2 separate regions of the Homo sapiens genome follow, and region 1 is linked to region 2. The links come from fine-mapping of genetic effects on gene expression. A gene starts in region 2. The other region holds a variant in brackets. All regions are shown on one strand. Distances are from middle to middle.

Region 1 (8,630 bases), 990 kb after region 2:
TGTAATTTTTTTTTTTTTTTGACATTCAGCCAATCTGCCTATTCTTTGTAAGGGCAAGAGATACATATTCCCAAGCTCAACACATAATTACGCTCAAGCTCAACACATAATCTCACTCAAGACAACTTCTTTTTGAAAATGAAGTAAAAGACAGTGGGCTCACCTATGGAGCCCTACACACTAGTTAGGAGCAAGGGTTTGATGGTCACTTGGCAAGTTGGATATCTTTAAAAGACACTGCGAAGTGGAAAAATGGGGATGAGCTCTGTAACAAAATGCCACTTATATAAATTAAAGATACATGGCCGGATGCAGTGGCTCACGCCTGTAATCCCAACACTTTGGGAGGCCAAGGTGGGCGGATCACCCGAGGTCAGGAGTTCAAGACCAGGCTGGCCAACATGGTGAAGCCCTGCCTCTACCAAAAATAAAAAAAATTAGCCAGACGTGGTGGCGTACGCCAGTAATCCCAGCTACTCGAGAGGCTGAGGCTGGAGAATTGCTTGAACCCAGGAGGTGGTGGGGGTTGCAGTGAGCAGAGATTGCACCATTGCATTCCAGCCTGGGTGACAAGAGCGAAACTCTGTCTCAAAAAAAAAAAAAAAAACAAAAGGAGGCCAGGCACAGTGGCTCATACCTGTAATCTCAGCACTTTGGGAGGCCGAGGCAGGCAGATCACGTGAAGTCAGAAGTTTGAGACGAGCCTGGCCAATATGGTGAAACCCCCCGTCTCTACTAAAAATACAAAAATTAGCCAGGCGTGGTGGTGCACATCTGTAATACCAGCTACTTGGGAGGCTGAGGCAGGAGAATCACTTGAACCCAGGAGGCGGAGGTTGCAGTGAGCCAAGATCGCACCACTGCCCTCCAGCCTGGGTGACAGTGAAACTGTCTCAAAAAAAAAAAAAATGATGATTAAAGGGAACAAATAAACACAGAAGACAGGGGAGTCTTGTAGGGACCAGCAAGGACAGGGCGCTATGAAATGAAGATATGAATAATTCACCTCTACCACTAAGATCCACCTAGAAAAACAAGTACTTATCATTATACACGTCACCCATCTCAGCTGAATCAAAACTAAGAATCCAAAAACTCATGTTCTAAATTTAGAAGTATGAAAACTGCAGTTCATGGGCCAAATTTGGACCTCTGCCTGCAAGAGGTCTGCCTGCAAGCTAAGAATGGTTTGTACTTTTTTTTTTTTAATGCTTGGGGGAAAAGTCAAAGGAGGAATAGTATTTTGTGACACATGAAAATTATATGAAATTCAAATTTCAGTGTCCATAATGCTTTAGTGGAACATCGCCAGGCTCATACATTTACATTGTGTCTACCCTGGCTCCTCTCTACAACAGCAGGGTTGAATAGTTGTGACAGAGACCATATAGCCTGCAAGATCTAAAATGCTTACTATGATGGCCAGGCGCAGCGGCTCATGCCTGTAATCCCAGAACTTTGGGAGGCCAAGGCAGGCAGATCACTTGAGGTCAGGAGTTCGAGATCAGCCTGGCCAACTTGGTGAAACACTGTCTCTACTAAAAATACAAAAATTAGCCACGCCTGTTGGCAGGCTCCCGTAGTCCCAGCTACTCAGGAGGCTGAGGCAGGGAGAATCGCTTGAACCCAGAGGCGGAGGTTGCAGTGAGCTGAGATCACGCCATTGCACTCCAGCCTGGGCAACAGAGCAAGACTCTATCTCAAAAAATAAATAAAATAATAAAATGTTTACTATCTGTCCATTTACAGGAAAAGTTTGCCAACCCCTATTGTAAAAGAACCTACATTGATTCCAGGAATGCTACTGCACTGCCTTGTCAGGTAGTTCTCTGTTCCAGGATCAAGGTCAGGGCCAGCAGAGTGCCTGAGAAGAGAACTGCCTCCTCCATGGCAAAGTTCAGGAGAACCCCAGCCCACACAGTGACCAAGGCTCTCCCACACAGCTCACGCAACAACAATGGCAGAGTTGAGACTCTGCACCCACGGGATTTCAGAACAAAAAGCCTTTATCTTTCCACAAAAGCAGTGTTACCAAGAGCTGCATAGCAACCATTTTCCTTAGCAAGCAAACTGAGGAGCAATTTCTGGTCTCTGAAATTCACATTGAAAAAAACAGCTTGGATGCCGGGCTTAATACCCAGGTAATGGGGTTGATCTGTGCAGCAAACCACCATGGCACACTTTTACCTTTGTGACAAACCTGCACATCCTGCACATGTACCCTGGAACTTAAAATAAAAGTTGAAGGAAAAAAAAGAAAAGAAAAAAAAACCCTAACAACCATCAAAAAGGGCTAGTTAAGTAAATTATCCTACACACACACACACACACACACACACACACACACACACACACACACACACAGACAGAGATATTAGAGAGAGTAAGGTGAATTTACATGAGCAGGCATGGAAATATTAATTGAGAAAAGCAAGTTGAAAGACATTATTATTCCATTGTTGCTTAAAATACATTTTTAGGCCGGGCACAGTGGCTCATGCCTGTAATCCCAGCACTTTGGGAGGCCAAGGTGGGTGGATCACTTGGGGTTAGGAGTTTGAGACCAGCCTGGCCAACATGGCAAAACCCTGTCTGTACTGAAAATACAAAAATTAGCTGGGCATAGTGGCACATGCCTGGAGTCCCAGCCACTCGAGAAGCTGAGGCAAGAGAATCACTTGAACCTGGGAGGTGGAGGTTGCAGTGAGCTGAGATCACGCCACTGCACTCCAGCCTTTTTCAATAATATATATACATATAATAGACTTTTTTATACATTTATACAGAAAACGTATTATACACTACATATGAGCTAAGGAAAATAACCAAGCTGTTATATATTACATACGCAACAGTGCGTGGTTGGGATTCAGAACTTTTATATTTCATGTTATATTATTTTATTGTTTGAATTTTATTAATATGAATTACTTTGACAATAAAAATGTTAAAAAGTATTTAAAGGGAAAAAATACTCATGTTGATGGACTTGCAGTTTTTAAGTTGGGAAATGTAGATATTGTCTGTTGCCAAACCTCATGAAACTGCCTCTCAATTGAAGGTATTAATTTTCTTTTTAATTATATTCTAGGCCGGGCGCGGGGGCTCACACCTGTAATCCCAGCACTTTGGGAGGCCAAGGAAGGTGGATCACTTGAAGTCAGGAGTTTGAGACCAGCCTGGCCAACATGGTGAAACCCTGTCTCTACAAAAAATACAAAAATTAGCCAGGCATGGTGGTACATGCCTGTAGTCCCAGCTACTCAGGAGGCTGAGGCTGGAGAATCGCTTGAACCTGAGAAGTGGAGCTTGCAGTGAGCCCAGATGATGCCATTGCACTCCAATCTAGGCGACAGAGCAAGACTGCCTCAAAAAAAAAAAAGTATTTTCTAGTTTTCCAAAATGTTTAAATAAGCATGTGTTCATTTTAGAACCAGAAATTGAGCTAAGACTTGACAGAATCAGTGGTAATCCATACAATCACTATCATGTAAAAATAGCAAAACAGACACAAGCAAAAAGACTAGAAAGCTCTATAACAATATCCTAATGGACATTCCCTCTGGTTTCTGGGTGCTGGGGCTAAGCGTGGTTTTTGTGATAATTTTTGCTTCCTTCTATTTTTCTATATATTCCAGGTCTTCTGCAATGAGTATCTTTTAAGTTTACAGCATGCTTCTCAACATTTTATCACGAAAAATTTTCAAACGTTCAAAATTGAGGCCGGGCGCAGTGGCTCACGCCTTGTAATCCTAGCACTTTGGGAAGCCAAGGTGGGTGGATCACCTGAGGTCAAGAGTGCGAGACCAGCCTGGCCAACATGGTGAAACTCCATCTCTATTAAAAATACAAAAAAAATGAGCTGGGCATGGTGGAGCACGCCTGTAATCTCAGCTACTCGGGAGGCTGAGGCAAGAGAATCGCTTAAACTCAGGAGGCAGAGGTTGCAGTGAGCCAAGATCACGCCATTGTACTCCAGCCTGGGCGACAAGAGCGAGACTGTCTCAAAAAACAAAACAAAACAAAGTTAAAGGAAGTTTTTTAATGAACGTCTGTATACCTGCCACACAGATTGTGCAATTATGTGACTGTATTTGCTTCATCACAAACATGTCCATCTATTCATTCCCTCTGTCCAGTGTCTTTTTTGTTCTTTGTTTTTGTTTTTGTTTTTGTTTTTGAGACGGAGTCTCGCACTGTCGCCCAGGCTGGAGTGCAGTGGCGCGATCTCGGCTCCCTGCAAGCTCCGCCTCCCGGGTTCACGCCATTCTCCTGCCTCAGCCTCCCGAGTAGCTGGGACTACAGGCGCCCGCCACCATGCCGGGCTAATTTTTTGTATTTTTAGTAGAGACAGCGTTTCACCATGTTAGCCAGGATGGTCTCGATCTCCTGACCTCGTGATCCACCCGCCTCAGACTCCCAAGGTGCTAAGATTACAGACATGAGCCACCGCGCCTGGCCCTTTGTTTGTTTGTTTGTTTAATTTAAGAACTAACGCACTGAGGGAGTCCCAAGCGATGTCAGGGCAATGACAACACAGCCGACCCGCGCTCTGTGCTCAAGTTCACGGGGTTCCTGACTCCAAGCCTGCAGTCTTGATCCGCAGCTGTGGTTCTCAGACCTGAGCCTGCACCAATTACAGAAGAGGGGGTTGCTGACATGCAGGATCACTATAGCTTTTTGGCAATTCCCCTCTTCCGCCATCAAGAGCGCGGTGTAAGCGGCCAACGACACCCCTGGAGAACCCCTTCACCTTGGGAGGATGCCCACCTCTGCTTTGGAGGGCCTAGAAACCCATACACTGGCTGAGCTGTGCGCCCGGCACCAATCTAGGCACCTGGGCTCTGTGATCAGGGCGTGGAGCTTTTTGTTCAGTAACAGGAGACAAAAGGTTTTTAAAAAAATACCTTAGTAGGCCGGCGCGGTGGCTCACGCCTGTAATCCCAGCACGCTGGGAGGCCGAGGCGGGTGGATCACCTGTCAGGAGTTCAAGACCAGCCTCGCCAACATGGCAAAACCCCGTCTCTACTATAA[A/AACAC]ACACACACACACACACACACACACACACACACACACACCTTAGTAAATAAGTAAATAATCTAGAATATGAGAAGAGATCCGAAACCAACAGAAAGAAACAAAAAGCAGAGCGGAGCAGGGTCGGGAGCTGAGCGCTGGTGGGGTGGGGGCACGGGGTGCAATAGGAATTAGAGAGTCAGGGAGACTCCCAGAGCAGCGAGCTGGAGGCGGCCTCGCCTGGAGGCCGGAGATGAGCCTTGCAGATGGCTAACACCTCCGGCAGGGGGAGCAGCCGAGCAAAGGCCCCAGCGGGGCGCGTGTCTGAGCAACAGCAAGGAGGCCAACGAGGCCGGAGTAGGCGTGCGGGGAGGGCAGAGGGTGGGAAGCGGGGGTAGAACGGAGGGTCCAAGAAAAGCAGCCGGTCCGGAAGGCAACGCAGCACCTGACAGCGCTACACCTTTGCCTCTGTCACTGGCAGGGGCCACTGCCAAGTTTAGAACCCAGGAGACTCAGGATCCAACTTGGGTTTTAAAAGGGTCCCTCTGGCTGCTCCGTTGAGAAGAGATGAGATGTAGGGTGCAAGGAGGAGGCGGGAGCCTGCTAGGAGGCAACTGCAGAGAGGGGGGATCTGGGCATGAGTAGTAATGGATGCTGGATCTCCTTTGAAGCTGCAGCCCACCGACTGTGCTGATGGAATGAGGTGGGGTGTGAAGGAAAGAGGAGTCAGATGACTCCAAGGTGTCTGGACAGAGCAACTGGGAGGCGGGATGGGGCTGTTTAGAGACAGAGTAGGCTGGGGGAGAACCAGGCACTCACGCTGGGCAGCGGGTATCCCAACGAGAGGCGGGGACACAGCGCACACATCAGTATGGAGCTAGGGGTCATGGTTTAGAATGAGGATCATCCGTGTTCCTTATGAGATCAGCTCCTCCTGAGAGTTGGAGGCAAAAGCCTGGCTGAAATGTGTTTGAGAGAATGGGGACACAGTGGCATGTGCCTGTAGTCCCAGCTACTCAGGAGGCTGAGGCTGGAGGATCACTTGAGCCAAGAGTTCAAGGCCAGCCTGGGAAACATGTGAGACCCCATCTCTAAAATTTAAAAAATAATAATAATAATAATAAAGAAAAGAGAGAGAATGGGAGAAGATGAACTGGAGGTGATGTCAAAGAGAGCACCTGAGCACCTGAGATTTTTGTTTCGGTCTTGAAAGATGAGGGAAACTTGTATGTGGTAGAGACATAATTTAAACCCAGATCTAAGGACATCCAAATCCTACACACCGTGCTGCAATCATAGAAGCTGGTGGGGAGGAAGTAGCCTTTATGGAGATGTACGGAGAGAGGCAAGCAGGAGATAAGGAGGAGGCGGAAGGAGAGGGCAGGCAGGGCAGGGGCTTCCACTGTGGTGAGTGGGAATCTCAAGGTGCTTTTGGGGTTTGGTCAGAAGCAGGGTTCTTGGGGTGGAGCCCAAGCCTGGAATTTTTTTTAAAGTTCCCAGGTGGGCCGGGCACAGTGGCTCACGCCTGTAATCCCAGCACTTTGGGAGGCCGAGGCAGGCAGATCACGAGGTCAGGAGATCGAGACCATCCTGGCTAACACAGTGAAACCCCGTCTCTACTAAAAATATAAAAAATTAGGCGTAGTGGCACGTGCCTGTAGTCCCAGCTACTCGGGAGGCTGAGGCAGGAGAATTGCTTGAACCCGGGAGGCAGAGGTCGCAGTGAGCCGAGATCGTGCCACTGCACTCCAGCCTGGGCGACAGAGCAAGACTCCATCTCAAATTAATTAATTAATTAATTAAAACAAAGTTCCCAGGTGATTCTACTGTGTAGCCTGGAGCAAGGCCACAGGAGAAGGGTTGTCTAAAAGGGAGAGGTGGGGAGACTGAAGAGTTGGGTTAAGATGGCAGTCATGCCTCATTTCACAGGTGGGGAAACTGGAGCTAAGGGAGGTAACATCACCTGCCCAGGGCAGCCTGAAAGTGGCAACCAGCCTCTTCCTCACCCCTGCAAAGAAAAAGAAGACAGCCCCACCCTACAGCGGACTTTACCTCTCTCCAATCAAGGTCCCTCCAGATGCACCCATGCAACTCTGACTCAGTCCAAGACCCCCGGCTCTGGCACTGTGCGGGACCAGGGAGGACAGTGAGGATGCTTTCAGAATACTTTTTAACCCAAGGGTTGAAACAAAACAAAAAGAATGTTTTTCTTTCACTCAAGGCTATGCAGGAAGCATTCCAATCCACCTACGTGCCATTTGTCTCATCAGAGTTTGAGGGTTTGGGGTTGTTTATGACATATTTCAGGACTACAAAAAATACAGAAAGTGGGATAAAGAGCATGAGTGCTCTGTTTTTAAATCAAGATGAATTTAATTTTCAGAAACAGCATAGCGATTACACACTTGGGGGCCCTGTGTTCAAATCTGAGCTCTACTACTTACTAACTATATAGTCTTGGCCAAGTTACCTAATTACTCCTAACCTCAGTTTCCTCAGCTGCAAAATGGGGATAGGTACAGCACCTGATTTGTGGGATTATCCTGAGGATGAACAGAGTTAATATCTAAAAAACACTCAGTAAATAGGGCTTGATAACGTAGGAGCCATTCACTAACTGGCAGCTTTTACTGCCACCGTTCCCCAGGATGTTGTCATTATTTTTGATTTGGAAAGGTCACAGACCGCTCTCGGACCAGGTGGAGACACTGTGGAGGCTGTGAAACCCAGAATGAAACGAATTCTCCATGTCCCAAAACCACATTCTGTGGTGAGTGTGGAAACCCCTAAACTCACCCCCTTCACTTCTGACGCCCTGGGGGGAAAGCCTGTGATAAATGGAAAGGCTAAAGTCCAAGGTGGGTACTGAGAAAAGACTTCCCAGTTGGGAGTTTTGGTGCCAAGGTTTTAGGAAAAGAAAAACCCATAAGAAGCTAGGTCTCTATTTTCTGAGGCTGCATTCCCAGAAACAGGGCCCAGCCCACCTCCGGGGGCCTCAACTGAGCCCCTCTGTACTCTATTGCTGTGTGATCTCCAAGGATCACTTCACCTCTCTGAACTTCTCTGGTAAACAGGGCTAAGACCCATCTGGCAGGGTTTGTGTAAAGAATCATTGAAATAATGGAAGTGAAAGCTGTAAAAGCACTTATGCCTACGAGAGGGTTGAGACCCCATGCCGCACGCAGGCTGGGTGAGGACAGGGAGGAGAAGGAGGCCTGGCTGCCCAGATTCCCAGCCTCGGGCAGAGAGAGAAGGAGGAGGAGGGATGAACAGCAGCTGGCCTGACACATTACACTTTCCCTTATTGCCACCCTGTGCCCAGGCCTCTTAGCAAGTGGGGGAAAGATACTGGCAGCTCTGGCAGGCACCAGGCCCAGCCTCAGCAGCCCAAAGGTCATAAACATCCTGGAAAAGGAAGCAAAACTCATCCACCCTCCCAGACTTTGACCACCAGGCCCAGGCCTATTCTCCTACAGGGCAAACCTCACCTTCTGGTGAGTCAGAACTGCCCCTCTACTCACCCCCACCACTACCACCAAGCACTACTGGGGGTTTTCACCTGTTACCTGGAATCCTTATAAGAGCCCCATGTTACCAATCGGGAAACTGAGCTCAGAGA
Region 2 (15,827 bases):
GCCAAAAAGGAAGGAAATGTATGGGTGAGTCTGGAGCTCCCTGCACTCCACCACTCCCACCCCCAACCTCAGAGCCCCTCCAAGCCACATGGACTCCTCACCTTGATCTCAGCCAGCTTCATTCCCCGGCTGCAGTCCCACACCGACAGCATGTGCTCATTGGAATCATCCACCACACAAAGAAAGGCACCCTGATCCTGAAGAAGGGTGACACATAGGAGGTGCAGAGTGAACCCTGGAGGTCCAGGGGTTCATGGTCATTAGGTTAAGAGGTACCATCACAGATGGAGAGGGCAGAAAAAGTTGACACACATGGCCCTTTCTCAAGAGAACCAGCTGGGTGGGGTTCAGGAAGGCCAGAACTTCCAAGGCTTCCTGGTGACATGCAAGAGTGGGGTTCCTAGGCAAGAATGGGGGTCTAGAGGCTTCAGGGCCAGCTCACCGCAGCTGAAAAGGCCAGGGCCCCAACACCCCGCTCGAAGGCCCCCAGTCCAATCTCCTGCAGTTTCAACAGCGTCTCTGAGTCCCAGATGTGAACCACAGGCTGCAGGGGCTGGTGGAGGAAGAGTCACAAGTGTGAAGCAAAATTGGAGTGCAATTCCAGCATGTCTGCCTGCTCCCTGACTTTGGCCTTACCTTTCCATCCTTATCCACTCCAGCTGTCTGTCCCGAGGCTACCCGAACACCATCAGGGTGAACAGCAAGGCTAAGGCAGGGGGAAGACACTCTAGGGAAAGGGTCTCTCAAGACCATCCAAGACACCTTCTCCAAGCTTGCAGAGCAGCAAGGCAACTCTTTTCTCCTGCTTCTCCATCCCCCCAGACCCTCTTCCTGCCAAGCCCACCAGCCCCGGACTCCTCACCATCGAACGCAGTCTGTGTGCCCCCGGTAATGTCTCTGGCCGCCACCTCCAGGACCCCCTGGGCCTCCTCCAGGCCGGTACAGCACCACCACACAGGCGATAAAGTAGACCACCTCCCCAGAGCGCAACACAAACAGATTAGAGCGGGAGTCACGACCCCTGTACCCATAACTGGGGTGGAGATCACGGTCAAGGAAAGGGTTAGATCAAGGGCAGGAGGAGGAAGAGGGGAGAAAGACAGAGCTTCTGGCTGGCAGGGCCTAGAGCAGAATGATGGTAGGAGAGGATCTAGAAGGCTCCTTGTCCCCACAGACCCAGGAGGAAACTGTAAAGGTAAGAGGGGTCCCAAGGTGAGAAAGGTGGTTCTCATGGGACTGGAAGGGGCAGGATACACCCAGTCAAGGCTGAGGGTCTCTGGCGGTGGGCCACTCGGCAGCTCCTCAAGGCTGCGGATGCCAGACGGGATGTACATGGTAATGGGGCGCCCTCGAAGGAACATCTTCACTGAGATGCCTTCTACAGAGAAAAGGGGTGGTGTCAACTACCCCCTTCCAGGAAAGACAGAGCAGAACCCTACCCACCACACCTACCCAAAATAGCTCCTGGGGCTACAGCCCAAATCCTAACCCTGCCATCCAAGTTTTCCTCTCTGTCCCTCTTTACATACCCAAATTGTAATTGCTCCTCCGAGATCCAGGGCCCCCAGGGCTGGAGAGGGGGTCTTTTCCCCCACGGCTGTTGGGAAGAGAGAAAGCACAGGGATTGGGGTCAGGTCCCAAGACCTAAGCGGGGAGGGGCAGGACACAAGAAAAGAGGTCACTGCAGAAACCACAGTCACTTCTGCAAGCCTGTAGTTTGCTTCGTGAGTATCAGGGCCCTAGTAGATGGAGACTTCTAGTTCCATTTAAGAGATAAGAAGATTGAGGCTGAAGGGGCTGAGCGCACAGCACAAGGCCACAAAGCTTGGAAGAGGCAGTGCAGGGTGCCAGAGCCCTTTCTCTCCTCCAGACCACCAGGCCTCAGTCTCGCTCTGTCGCCCAGGCTGGAGTGCAGTGGTGCGACCTCAGCTCACTGCAACCTCCGCCTCCTGGGTTCAAGCAATTCTCCTGCCTTAGCCTCCCCAGTAGCTGGGATTACACGTGCGCGCCACTAGGCCCCGCTATTGACCTTTTCATTTCCCCATCCGTAAAATGGGACCAAAGGGAGTCGAGAATGTACACCAGCTCCGCCTCTCAGGGATCCGGGAGGCAAGCAAGAAAGTCCACATCTCTCCAGAGATTCCTGTCGTTAGATAACAGTAAAGTGATACTGTCTCTTCAGAGAATAAAGCACAGGCCAAGGACAGGGCTAGAATGAACATCCGGGTGTCCTGGGGCCCGTACATACTCTGAGGCAACTACATCCGGCCACTAGGATGTCCTCTTGCCCTCTAGAAGTAAGTATTAATAGATTGGTACTTGGTAGATCCAGCGGAAAGAGGGCTGAAGCTCTAGGGACAGCCGTCCATGAAAGCCATGGAAGCTTCTAGAAAAGCCTCTTGGGATCGCAGAAGGTGTGCTGTGATGTAGTGGAAAGGGTAGGGGAACTGGAGTCAGGAAGAGTTAGGTTCAAATCCTGACTCTAGCTGTGTGACCCCAGGCAAATGACTTACCCTCTCTGAGCCTGCTTCCTCACCTGTGCAATGAGCAGCATGAGACCACCTAACCCCCAAGGATGTTGTGGGGACTGACTGAGATGGAGGAGGTCGAGGGTTTAGCACAGTGCCCGGTACACAGCAGGCGCCCCAGAAGTGTTTGTTTCTTTATTCCTGTTGGGCAATCAGGTCCCCCCACCCCAACCAGGGATGTGAGGTGAGGGATATGGAAAGTCGAGAGCCTGCGCCTGGGGCGGGGTGGGTTGAGGGGAAGCCTCACCCACCTCTCTGTGCTCCCGGACCGCACTAACAGGTTGGCGGAGGAGATTGCCTTCCTGGAGAGCTTCTGCCGAGGCCGCTCTGAGGGGGATGAGGAGGAGGAAGAATTTCTTCGCGGCCTGGTGGGGGCATAGTGAAGGTCATTCCCTCCAACTGTACTCTGCAATCCTACCACCCCTCCCAGCTTCCGCCACAGGGCCACAGGACACCTACGTGTCAGCACGCTGTGGGGGCTGCAAGGGCCTGAGGATCCCCGGGGGGCCAGGGGAGCCAGCACCACTGCTGCTGCTGCCCCCTCCTTCAGATTGGGTCCCGCTAGGCTCTTCGCTGGCCCCCTGAGGGGCTGGGGGTCCATTGCTCAGGCCAGGGGGTCCAGGGGATGACTTGAGCTCCACCTCTGTCTCCGTCTGGGTGCCTCGGCTCACCAAGGAAGGGGTGCACGTGGGTGGCAGTCCTGGGGGGGCTGCAAGACTGCTGGAGAGATGTTGAATTAACCTGAAGCCCCAGAGGCCCCAAGGAGGAGGAAAAATGGGGTGTGATGACATGCATACCTGTCCCCCGGAGGAGCTGGTGTGCCAGAGCCCTGCAGGGAGGAAGGGGGCACCTGCAGCCGCAGCAGGCGAAGGGCTTCTGCCAGGGCTGCCTTTACCAGTTCCATCTCCTGCTCCTGCACCCGAAGCCGCTGGCTCAGAGACTGGAGGGCCTCCCGAGCAGGGCCGTCACCTGGGAAAAGGGCAAGAGGTACTCAGAATGTACCCATCACCTGAAGAAAGCGTAGAGGGGATTCTGTCTCCCCACAACTTTACATGTGTCCGGTAGGACTGCCCCTTTCAGGCAGCCCCAGGCTTGAATGCTCGTCCAGAGGGGAGGAGACGGTGGTAAAGGATCAAGGGCCTCCTTCTGGCAGGGCAGGCGAGAAACCTGGCAAAGCTCCCTTCCTGCTGCCGTCTCAGCCTCCGCAAAGACTGGGAGTACCATGGAGTACCGGGGGGGAAATATGGAGTACTGCCGAGGAACGTGGGAGCCACAGAGAGAGGCGCCGCACTGGTGAGGGCAGGGACCGCAGCCCTCCCCACGCGCCCCCAGCAAGCTCAGGTCTCCAGCGAAAGCTGAGTAACTGAGCCGGGGGAACACCAGGAGAGAGAACGGGGTGCGGGAATGGAGTCATACTGAGGACCCAGAGTACAAGAAAAGAGATCCAGAGTGACAGGAGAGAGTGTGAGTGGTGAGCAGAGTCACAGTGAAGGTCTCAGGGGGCAGTGGGGATCAGAAGGAAAAAGACCTGAAATACCACGAGAAGAGGCCCGGAGTAACGCAGGGGGCAGGGAAACATCGAGGGGCCCGGAGTTACGTGGGGCGTAGAATGACGCTGGGGAAGCCCGAAGTGACAGCAAGACCCAAGCAACTAGGGAGGGCGACCGGAGGAACTGTGGAGGATGCTCGGAGCCCCTGGGGCGGAGGAGCACGCGGGGACGCCTCCAGACAGCCGTCCAGCTCTGGCATAACCCGACGAGCCGGGCGCTCCGGGAAGGGGCACGCCGCCCGCCCCGCCCCGTACTCACCGGGCCCCGCGGCCCCGTCCATCCGGCCCCCGGGTTGCTCCGAGCGGCGGCGGCGGAGGAGGCGTCTAAGCCGCGGGGGCCACGGCCGGGGAGAGGGGAAGGGGAAGCACCCCGGGGCGCGCGCGAAGGGCGCCGTACCACCACCCCGAGGGGGCGCTGTCGGGCGCGGGGAAGGGGCCTGGAGGGGGCGCTGTGGGCCCGGGGCCGCAGTCTCCAGACCCCCCCGGGCCCTCGGACTCTCCCGGGGCCGCTCTCGGCTCCCGGGGGTGGGGTGGCAGGGCCGTCCGGTGCCACAGCGCCGCAGCACAAACAGGCGCCGGACGCGGAGCCGCCAGGAAGCGCGGGAGGGGGGGCGGGCCCGAGGGGGGGCCGGGCCGCTTGGTAACCCCTCCCTGTCCGGGCCTCGCCGCTCAGTACGGGGGCGGGGCTAGCCGGCTGACCCCCTGGCCTACTCCCGGCCTCCGGCTCCAGGCCCTTCCCGGATCCCCGCCCCCGGATTCCCAGGGGACGGGGAAGGGAGCGCCCGCCCCGATATCTCCGCCCCCCAGCCCCTAACCCCTCAGGGTTGAGCGGACCAACCCCACCACTTCCGCGAGGGGCAGGGGCGGGGTCACAAAACGGGCCCTCGGCCTAGGGGCGGAGTTTCTCGTAAGGGGCAAGGCCAAGGCATCTTGTATTGGGGCTGACAGGGGGGCGGGTTATTAGGGCTGAGGATGGGAGGATGCTCAGGGTATTGGGGTCAGGGTGGCATTAGCCCAGCTCAAGCCGGGCCGGGCTGACTCAGCATCCTGCCCCAGCCAGCTTCCATCCCTGACACCTCTGCATTCCCTTGGGCAGAGATGGGAGATGGCGCCGGTGTTGCCCCTGGTGCTGCCCCTGCAGCCCCGCATCCGCCTGGCACAAGGGCTCTGGCTCCTCTCCTGGCTGCTGGCGCTGGCTGGTGGCGTCATCCTCCTCTGTAGTGGGCACCTCCTGGTCCAGCTAAGGCACCTTGGCACCTTCCTGGCTCCCTCCTGTCAGTTCCCTGTCCTGCCCCAGGCTGCCCTGGCAGCGGGCGCGGTGGCTCTGGGCACAGGACTAGTGGGTGTAGGAGCCAGCCGGGCAAGTCTGAATGCAGCTCTATACCCTCCCTGGCGAGGGGTCCTGGGCCCGCTGCTGGTGGCTGGCACGGCTGGTGGGGGGGGGCTCCTGGTCGTCGGCCTCGGGCTAGCCCTGGCTTTGCCTGGGAGTCTGGATGAGGCGCTGGAGGAGGGCCTGGTGACTGCCTTGGCTCACTACAAGGACACAGAGGTGCCTGGGCACTGTCAGGCCAAAAGGCTGGTGGATGAGCTGCAACTGAGGTACCACTGCTGCGGGCGCCACGGGTACAAGGATTGGTTTGGGGTCCAGTGGGTCAGCAGCCGTTACCTGGATCCCGGTGACCGGGATGTGGCTGAGTGAGTGATTTGCGTCTCCCTTCCTCCTCCTCCTCCTCCCTGGACAGGCTCCCTCCTGCTGCCTTGAATCCCCACCTCGCTCAGAGGGGCAATAAGTAGAACATAGTGGCTGAGAGACTGGTTACAGCTCTGCCATTTATTAGCTGTGAAACCCAGGGCATGTTACCAAACCACCCTGGGCCCATTCCTTCACCTGTAAAATGGAAATAATAGTACTTATCTGATAGAGTTGTTGTGAAGATGTGAATTATGCTTGGCTGGCACATAGTACAGCAGTCAGTAAATGTTTTACTATTCTTTTTCCCTTCTGAACACCTGTGCCCTTCAGTCCCTCCCCCAGGCCTCTATCTCCAGACATCCTAACCCCTCTGTCCCTCCCTTTGCAGCCGGATCCAGAGCAATGTAGAAGGCCTATACCTGACTGATGGGGTCCCTTTCTCCTGTTGCAACCCCCACTCACCCCGGCCTTGCCTGCAAAACCGTCTTTCAGACTCCTACGCCCACCCCCTGTTCGATCCCCGACAACCCAACCAAAACCTCTGGGCCCAAGGGTGCCATGAGGTGCTGCTGGAGCACTTGCAGGACTTGGCAGGCACACTGGGTAGCATGCTGGCTGTCACCTTCCTACTGCAGGTGAGTCAGCAAAGCATCTGACACCTCCTCCCACCCGGGACTCCTCCCTGCCTCCAACCCTGGGCCTCTTGGAACCGCTGACTCTCCCTGACTCTTTCCCCTTGCTTCCCCCACAGGCTCTGGTGCTCCTTGGCCTGCGGTACCTGCAAACAGCACTGGAGGGGCTTGGAGGGGTCATTGATGCGGGAGGAGAGACCCAGGGCTATCTCTTTCCCAGTGGGCTGAAAGATATGCTGAAAACAGCATGGCTACAGGGAGGGGTTGCCTGCAGGCCAGCACCTGAGGAGGCCCCACCAGGAGAAGCACCTCCCAAGGAGGATCTATCTGAGGCCTAGAGGCCTGGAGCTTGGGGTGAGGAAGAGGGAGGGATGGACAAGTCTGAAAACCTCACAACTCCTTACCAAGGCTCCAGGTTGGGGGGATCGTAGGATTAGAGGGGCTAAGGATAGTCAGCGAGCTGGACTGGGGTAAGAAAGAAAACCAGATGTCCTAGGGCCTAGCCCTTGTAGTCAGAACCACCAGGGAACAGCAAAGAACAGAGTGATGGGAAAGTGACATGAGAAGGCCTGGAGGCTGATTCTGATATAGACTCAATAAAGTTTTTGGATGGAAGCAATTGCTTTTTCTTGTCAAGGGGATGGGGGCCTGGGAGAACTGATTTCTGTCTGATGGAGCAGCTAGGACTCCAAAGTTTGGACCCTGGCTCGACCTGTGCAGCAACAGGAGCCCACATCTGTAAGGATCAGAAAGCAAGAACCCAATGTAAGAAGCAAAGGAAAACAAGAGGCCCCTCCAGGTTGAGATTCTTTATTCTGGAGGTAGGAAGGGGGTCAGCATGCTCAGGTGGGAAGGGTCCAGCCCAGCTCCTCCAGCCCCCCAGTGCATGCCCAGCCCCAATAAGTTACCCAGTTACTCAGCTGCCCTCCCTCCTGGGTCCATCTGTCCTTCTGTTCCACCCTAGACAGGGCCAACCTGACTCAACACAAGGGCTGCTTGTCCCCAGCCTGTGGGCAGTGCCACACGGCAGGCTAGGGGAGGGGTGAAGCAGCAGGACCATGCCCTGGGCCTGGAGGGGCAGAGGGGCCACTTCTGGCTCCAAGGGTCAGGACTTGGAAAACCACATCCTGGGCAGGCCTGGGGCCCAGTCCCACAAGGTCTGTGCCTGAAAAGAGGTGGTAGTTGGGGTGGGGCCGCCATCACACCTCAATTGCTGGGTCTGAGCCCCGGCCCTGCCGCTGCAGCTGCTCCTCCTGCTTCATCTTGGGCTTCTCTGTCCGAGTATGCCACACCAGTACCTGTGCCAGGAGGGATGCAGTGAGAGCCAGGCCCAGCTGCAGCCAGGCCTCTGGGTCCCCGAGCCTGGAATGGATTCTCTAACCCTATCGACATATACAGTATAGGCTTCAAAGTGTAAAGGGCAGGGTGGAGGAAGACTTAGTGCCTCTAAAACCGGGCCTTGGCCGGGCGCGTGGCTCACGCCTGTAACCCCAGCACTTTGGGAGGCCGAGGAAGGCGGATCACGAGGTCAGGAGATTGAGACCATCCTGGCTAACACCGTGAAACCCCGTCACTACTAAAAACACAAAAAAATTAGCCGGGCGTGGTAGCGGGTGCCTGTAGTCCCAGCTACTTGGGAGGCTGAGGCAGGAGAATGGTGTGAACCCGGGAGGCGGAGCTTGCGCTAAGCCAAGATTGCGCTACTGCACTCCAGCCTGGGTGACACAGCGAGACTCTGTCTGAAAAAAAAAAAAAAACAACAAACAGGGCCTTATTCCTTCATCCTCTCTGTGCCACATGGGTTCCCAGAACTCGGGGCAGAGTGGCAGGAGACCACTTTCCCCCGCTAGTTCCCAGCTTCCCCTTCAGTAGAGTCAGCAAGGCTGATCAGAGATCTGGAGAGTCCCTCCTGGTTAAACCACCCATTCCCAGGGTCTCACTGTACCTCCCCCATCACCTGTCCATCCAAGAGCCAGGTTTCTATGCCCATCTCCATTCCCTTACCCGAGTGCAGTTGGCAGCCCGTGGCTCCAGGTCCTTGGGATCCACAAGGTGGCTCAGAAGACTGCTCTCCAGGTGGCCCCGGGGAGCGGTGGAATCAAATTGGGCATTGGGCTTATCTAACAGCAAGGGCAGGGCCACGGCAAATCCAGCCATATCCACAGGGAAGGGCCTGCTGGGCTCCCATGCTGTGTGGAAGCCCACTACCCGGCCGTCCTGTACCTGAGGGCCCTCGAATCGCAGGCCGCCCACCAGCCCCACAGGCCACACTGAGACACCACGGGTCCAGCGCATCTAACGGAGGTCGGGAGAGAAGAAACAGAGGGGTGGTCCGGGGAAGGGAGCAGCAGAAAGAGCCACCTGGCTCACTCTGCCCCACTGCTTCCAGCCCCTCACCCAGCAGCCAACGGCAACACTGCTAACCAAGGTAACGAATGAAGCTGGCCGCACCTGGTCTCTTGCCCATCCCCATCCTGGTGCTCACCTCCTCAAACAGCTCCCGGCTGTAGGTGTTGTCATCGTCAGCAAAGTAGACGACTCCTTGGGTCCCTGGTGGTGGTGGGTCCTTCTCCCCACCCACAGCACCCCCTCTGCCCCGGAGCCAGTCCAGGGCCTTGTTCCGCTGCTCGACACCACGGGGATGAACCCAGCCAGGCTCGCCCTCCCGAAGCCGCTGGGCTTTGGGCGTGAGGACCACCAGGTGTGTGAAGAGGAGGCCAGAGGCAGCCAGCAGCCCTGAGACCAGCGGGGTGGGACCCTCAGCATCCTCCACCAGCAGCCAATGCAGCCGGGGCACCAGGCTCAGTGTCTGGGACAGTCGTACCAGCTCTGCCTTCTGTACCAGCCTGCAGGGGAGAGATGCAGCACAAGGAAAAGGGGCAGGCACCATTTGCCTGCTCCAGCCAGGGCAGACAGCTTCTCCTGGGCCACTGCCTGCGTCTCCTGTGGCCCTTCCCAACCAATGCCTAAACTCCCTCTTTCTTGCCTGTCAACTTCATGCTAACACTCACCTGCCCTGTTCTTCTGGTCCATGTCCATCACCCACCTCAACTCCAGAGCTCAGGCTGTGGGAGACTATAAATTAAGGGCACAGGGCCGGGCATGGTGGCTCACACCTATAATAACACTTTGGGAGGCTGAGGCAGGTGAATTACCTGAGGTCTGGAGTTCCAGACCAGCCTGGCCAATATGGTGAAACCCCATCTCTACTAAAAAAATACAAAAATTTGCTGGGTGTAGTGGCACATGCCTGTAATCTCAGCTACTTGGGAGGCTGAGGCAGGAGAATCGCTTGAACCTGGAAGGAGGAGGTTGGAGTGAGCTGAGATCGCACCATTTCACTCCAGCCTCAGTGATAACAGCAAAACTCCATCTCAAAAAAAAAAAAAAAAGGCCGGGCATGTTGGCTCACGCCTATAATCCCAGCACTTTAGGAGGCCGAGGTGGGCGGATCACCTGAGGTTAGGAGTTCGAGACCAGCCTGCCCAACATGGCGAAGCCCCGTCTCTATTAAAAATACAAAAAATTACCCAGGCATGGTGGCAGTCACCTGTAATCCTAGCTACTCGGGAGGCTGAGGCAGAAGAATCGCTTGAACCCGGGAGGCGAAGGTTGCAGTGAGCCGAGATTGTGCCACTGCACTCCAGCCTGAGCGACAAGAGCGAAACTCTGTCTCAAAAAAAAAAAAAAAAAAAAAAAAAAACAAATTAAGGGCACAGGCTTTGGGATCAGGTAGATCTGGGTTTGAAATCCAGTTTTGTAACTTATTATGTGAGACAATTTGGGAAAATGGCTCAATCTCCCTAAGCCTCAGTTTCCTCAACTGTAAAATGGGAATAACAGTACTTTATAACAATGTTGTTTTAAAGATTAAATAAGAGCTGGGGATGGTGGCTCACACCTGTAATCCCAGCACTTTGGGAAGCTGAGGCAGGTGGATCATGAGGTCAGGAGATCGAGACCATCCTGGCTAACACGGTGAAACCCCATCTCTACTAAAAATATAAAAAATTAGCTGGGTGTGGTGGCGGGCACCTGTAGTCCCAGCTACTTGGGAGGCTGAGGCAGGAGAATGGCGTGAACCCGGGAGGCAGAGCTTGCAGTGAGCCAAGATCACGCCATTGCACCCAGCCTAGATGACAGAGCGAGACTCCATCTCAAAAAAAAAAAAAATACAAAAGTAAAATACAAAAAATTACTGGCCAGGCATGGTGGCTCACACCTGTAATCCCAGCACTTTGAGAGGCCGAAGCAGGTGGAACACGAAGTCAGGAGTTCCAGACCAGCCTGGCCAACATGGTGAAACCCCATCTCTACTAAAGATACAAAAAATTAGCCGGGTGTGGTGGCGCATGCTTGTAACCCCAGCTACTCGGGGGGCTGAGGCAGGAGAATTGCTTCAATCCGGGAGGTGGAGGTTGCAGTGAGCCGAGATCGTGCCATTGCACTCCAGCCTGGGCGACAGAGTGAGACTCCATCTCGGGAAAAAAAAAAAAAAAATTAGCCTGGTGTGGTGGTGCACGCCTGTAATCCCAGCTACTCGGGAGGCTGAGGCAGGAGAATCGCTTGAACCCGGGAGGTGGAGGTTGCAGTGAGCCAAGATCACACCACTGCACTCCAGCCTGGGCAACAGAGCAAGACTCCATCTCGGTGTTGCGGGGAGGCGGGGGGAAGAAAAAAAAAAAAGGAACAAACCAGGAATGTGGAACGTGGGGCTTGGCCTCTTCTGTACTTCTTTATCCTTCAGATCTACCTGCCTGTCCCAGGGCTGGTTGTGTGTGCATGTCGCAGGTGGGGTCTAGAGCTTCCTATGCGTGAATGGGACAGCCATCTGATTCCCAGAAGATGTATTAACACCCTTATGGCTACAGATCCAAAACCACATTCCCCAATTGGTTTTATTAGTAAAACCAATTACATTTGATTTAAAACAAAAGCAAATGTAAATCACTAAATACAGTGCCTGCTAGAGAGTAAACACACTGTAAGTAACAGCTGGTATAACTATTTCTGGACCCTAGTATGACTATCAGGCCAAGCACTTTCAACTTTTTTTTTTTTGAAATGGGCTCTCTCTGTCGCCCAGGCTGCATGATCTCCACTCACTGCAACCTCCGCCGCCCAGGATCAAGCAATCTTCCCACCTCAGCCTCCAGAGTAGCTGAGATTACAGGCATGCACCATCACGCCTAGCTAACTTTTTTTTTTTTTTTTTTTTTTTTTCAGAGACAAGAGTTTCACCATGTTGCCCAGGCTGGTCTCAAACTCCTGAGCTCAGGCGATCCGCCAGCCTCGGGCTCCCAAAGTGCTGGGATTACAGGCGTGAGCCACTGCGCCCAGACAAGCCCTTTCAACTTTAATCAGGGGGTTTTAACTTTCTTGCCAAACGGTCCCTAAGGAGAGAGAGTTAATTCACTGCCAAGCTCAAAATTTCTTTGAAATGTTATTGTTCTATCTTATAATTTGGTAGAAATTTTGTATTTTCCTTCTAGAAAAAGAACTATTTTTTTTCTTTTTTCTTTTGTTTTGTTTTGTTTTTGAGATGGAGTTTCACTCTTGTTGCCCAGGCTGGAGTGCAATAGCGCACTCTCAGCTCACTGCAACCTCCGCCTCTCAGGTTCAAGGGATTCTCCTGCCTCAGCCTCCCCAGTAGCTGGGATTATAGGCATGCGCCACCACGCCTGGCTAATTTTGTATTTTTAGTAGAGACGGGGTTTTGCCATGTTGGCCAGGCTGGTCTCGAACTCCTGACCTCAGGTGATCCACCCGCCTCGGCCTCCCAAAGTGCTGGGATTACAGGCGTGAGCCACCACACCCAGCCTGAAAAAGAACTATTTTCCCACAAATATTTGAGTATAAATGTGGTTCATTTATCCTGTCTTTGGCATGCTCTAGTTTGAGGAACAACTCCTAGCCCAGTGCCTCCCCAAACTCCTCATCATCAACTCCAACTTCTTGGACAACGCAGACCTCTTGAGTGCACCAGAGCCCATACCTGGCATAGGTGGGGGTAACAACATAGATAGTAGGCAGGGCCTCGGGTTCAGGGGGCTGGGCAGGGGCAGGGGGTGGCCGTCGGAGTTCCGCTTGCAGCTGGGAAATCCTCAGATCCTTCTGCCGTAGCTGCTCGGCTGCTGCCCGCAGGGGAGGAAGGCAGTCACATGGCTGGCCTGGTCCCAGGAAGCATTAATGGGGAAAGAAGGTGGGGACAGAGAACCGCAGAATGTTCAGCATCCCAAAGGGCCGTAATCGTCTCATTAATTCCTAACCAATGCAGGTATCACCTTATGACTTCCCTAGTAGCCTTTTCTATACCTCTCGTGTGGGAAACTCACTGCCTCAAGCAGCAGACCCTCTCCAACTTTAATAAATTCCATTGTTACAATTTTATGTTGGATATTGAGCTGATTCCATCTTTTCTACCTGCTGGTCCTAATTTTGCCTTCTGGGCTTCTAACAAGCTCATGTCCTTAAACAGGACAGTCTTTTCAGAGTCCAAGGTGCCAACTAACCATTACACTATGGAACCCCTTTTGGACAGTCTTTCAAATACCTGAGGATAACGCAGTGGCACTGTCCCTAAATCTTTGCATAAGGGGCAGGGTTCGATCCATTCCCTTGGCTAGGTGACCAAAGACTCATTGTTAAATTCATTGATTCCATCGTAGGATAAATATTTATTGAATACTCTTCCTAGGAGGCACTGCCTTAGGTGCTGGGGATACAGCAGGGAACAAAACAGACACAGTCCCTGCCCTCATCGAGCTTTCTGTTTAGTGGAGGAAGCAGACACTAAGCAAAGAAACAAATTAATAACATTATTACAAACTGTGATGGGGCCATGAAGAAAATAATCAGGATAGAGAATAAAAGGGAATGGAATTAAGAATGGTAACTTTAGCTATGGTGGTCAGGGAAGGCCTCTCTGAGGAGGTGACATTTGAGCTAAGACCTGAAGGATGAGAAAGAGGCAGCCCGGGAAACGCTGGAAGCAAAGCACCCCAAGCAGAGGGAACAAGTTAAGTGCTTGAGAGAGTAATGAGCGTGGGGTTTTCGAGAAACTGTCAGCAAGCCAGTCTGGCTGCAGCAGAGCGAGGGAGAGGGGTGGAAATGGGGTTGGGAGAGGCGGACGGCAGCAGGATCATGCGGGGCCTTGCAGGCTCTGGGAAGGAGTCTGGATTTCATCCGAGGTGCGGCGGGTAGCCGCGGTGCGTTCTATAGAGGGCAGTGCGCCTGAGGCCGCAGAGCTGTCCGGAGGGCCGAGCGGATGAATGGTGTTTGCCGGGGGTTCATCCCCAGGGCGGGATGCACGGCGGCGGGCGCCCTCGGGCCAGCCCGCCGCACCCCCGCCCCGCCCCGCTCACCGAGCTGTACCAGCGCGTAGAGGAGGCCGGCGATCGACACCAGGAAGTAGGCGAGAAACACGTTCTTCAGCTTCAGCTTCATGGCCGCGCCGCCGCCCGCGCCCGAGCAGGCGGGGTCTGCAGGGGACGAGGGGTTCCCGCCCCAAACCCCGGCTCCTGTCCGCAGGCCCCGCCCCTGCAGCGGCTCCGCCCTGCGTCCCGCCTTCCTCGCACTCCCCTACCAGCTCCCAGCTGGGGCTGGCAGCGCCGCCAGGGCACGCTTCCGGTCATCTGTGCACCCCCCCGCCTTGTAGACTTGATTTCCGGTCCCACCGCCAGGTTCCGGGAACCACCGGGTGGTGACGTCACATCCGGCGTGCCAAACTCGCGTGGCCGGCAGTCAAAACCCCGGGTAGGTGCAGAATCTCGAGTAGGTGCACGTGGTACCTACCTCGAGACCCGCCCCCTCATCACGGAATTGCCTGAGAAAGCCAGTCCTGGCGCCCAGATCTTCACCTTATTCATCCATCCAGTCAGTCACGCCACCCAATAGCTGTTGCTCAATACTTATTACACGAATGAAATCTAAGGCCCACCACATGATCCTCTGGGTGTCTCTCCTGGAATCCTCACTATAATACTTTGAGATAGATAAGAAACCAAAGTTGACAAAAATTATGTCATTGCCACAGGGCAGTTTTGTGTCCTTTCTGGACACCCGATTCCAGCATCTCTAGTGTGTCCTCTGGCCCACATTTCTTCAACAGATGACAACAGGGGTGCCAAGGAAGTGTTTTAACTACCAGGAAATTGATTGGAAATAGTTCCTGAGCTGGGGAATTCCATGAATGCATCCCCTTCCTCCTCACAAGCACAAGCCATCCTTCTCATTTTTCCTTTAAAAAAAAAAAAAAGGGCCCGGCCCAGTGGCTCATGCCTGTAATCCTGGCACTTTAGAAGCCCAGGAGTTTCAGATCAGCCTGGGCAACAAGGCAAAACCCCGTCTCTACAAAAAAAACACAAAAATTAGCTGGGTGTGATGGCGCGGGCCTACAGTCCCAGCTACTTGGGAGGCTGACATGGGAGGCTGAGGCTGTGGTGAGCCGTGATCATGCCACTGCACTCCAGCTTGGGTGACTGGGTGAGACCGTCTCAAAAAAAAAATAACCCCCCAAAAAAAGTTTCTGGTAAAATAATCTCTGACTTGTGGTCAGTCTACAAAATGAGGGGAAGGGGGAACAGTATACTTCCTGTCACTAAAACAATGGGAAACTTTAAAAAGTGCTGTTAGCAGCTGGGCGCGGTGGCTCACGCCTGTAATCCCAGCACTTTGGGAGGCCGAGACAGGCGGATCACGAGGTCAGGAGATCGAGACCATCCTGGCTAACACGGTGAAACCCCGTCTCTACTAAAAAACACAAAAAAATTAGCAGGGTGTAGTGGCGGGCGCCTGCAGTCCCAGCTACTCAGGAGGCTGAGGCAGGAGAATGGCGTGAACCCGGGAAGCAGAGCTTGCCAAGAGCCGAGATCGCACCACTGCACTCCAGCCTGGGCGACTGAGGGAGACTCCGTCTCAAAAACAAAAACAAAAACAAAAGTGCTGTTAGCTACAAGCAGAAGCCTCTAGGTTGGGCACAGTGATCGATGCCTGTAATCCCAGAACTTTAGAAGCCTGGGAGGTCAAGGCTGCAATGAGCCAGGATCATACCACAGCACTCCCCGCACTCCAGCCTGAGCAATAGAGCGAAACTATGTCTCCTCAACCCCCGACATCCTCCAAAAGTTTAGTTTGAGAAACAGCTATCTGACCTTATGGCTATTTCTATCCAAGAGGGACTCCATTGGCTCTGATCACCACTTACTAACTAGGCCTACTAAAATGTGATGATCTTGCTGGGCTCTTCTACGAAAATATCTAGCAACCCAAGGAAGGCTTGCACTTGCTCATTTTGCTGAAATCAAGGATGCTCATGCTGGCCGGGAACAGTGGCTCATCCCTGTAATCCCAGCACTTTGGAAGGCCGAGGCAGGTGGATCACTTGAGGCCAGGAGTTCGAGACAACATGGTGAAACCCCATCTCT

Which allele goes with the higher level. Alleles are on the strand shown, and positions count from the first base shown. SD is a standard deviation of normalised expression in the study named.
For the expression in ileum of the gene that starts at base 5,158 in region 2, allele A in region 1 goes with a higher level than allele AACAC (large effect, 1.0 SD a copy in CEDAR).

The links.
Region 1: its variant is fine-mapped to the expression of ROM1 in ileum (CEDAR, PIP 0.95).

The regions. Positions count from the first base shown.
Region 1 is chr11:63,601,391-63,610,020 of GRCh38, forward strand. All of the region lies in intron 2 of PLAAT3 (phospholipase A and acyltransferase 3), which reads right to left. Among named protein-coding and RNA genes, the nearest start is that of PLAAT3, 8.7 kb to the right of the region's middle. RefSeq lists enhancers at 13-514, 3,757-4,522. The variant A/AACAC (reference allele first, on the strand shown) is at 5,035.
Region 2 is chr11:62,608,100-62,623,926 of GRCh38, forward strand. ROM1 (retinal outer segment membrane protein 1) reads left to right here and starts at 5,158. Exons shown (of 3, transcript NM_000327.4): 1 at 5,158-5,772; 2 at 6,159-6,405; 3 at 6,522-7,017. The coding sequence starts at 5,183. The coding sequence ends at 6,740. EML3 (EMAP like 3) reads right to left here and starts at 4,676. Exons shown (of 22, transcript NM_153265.3): 1 at 4,337-4,676; 2 at 3,326-3,497; 3 at 2,988-3,245; 4 at 2,780-2,893; 5 at 1,530-1,597; 6 at 1,255-1,378; 7 at 863-1,033; 8 at 637-706; 9 at 443-553; 10 at 102-197. The coding sequence starts at 4,358. B3GAT3 (beta-1,3-glucuronyltransferase 3) reads right to left here and starts at 13,887. Exons shown (of 5, transcript NM_012200.4): 1 at 13,767-13,887; 2 at 12,398-12,572; 3 at 8,888-9,248; 4 at 8,407-8,697; 5 at 7,197-7,700. The coding sequence starts at 13,848. The coding sequence ends at 7,602. RefSeq lists enhancers at 3,201-3,759, 3,760-4,319, 5,093-5,152, 8,547-9,047, 9,048-9,548 and 1 more and silencers at 4,163-5,042, 13,602-14,011.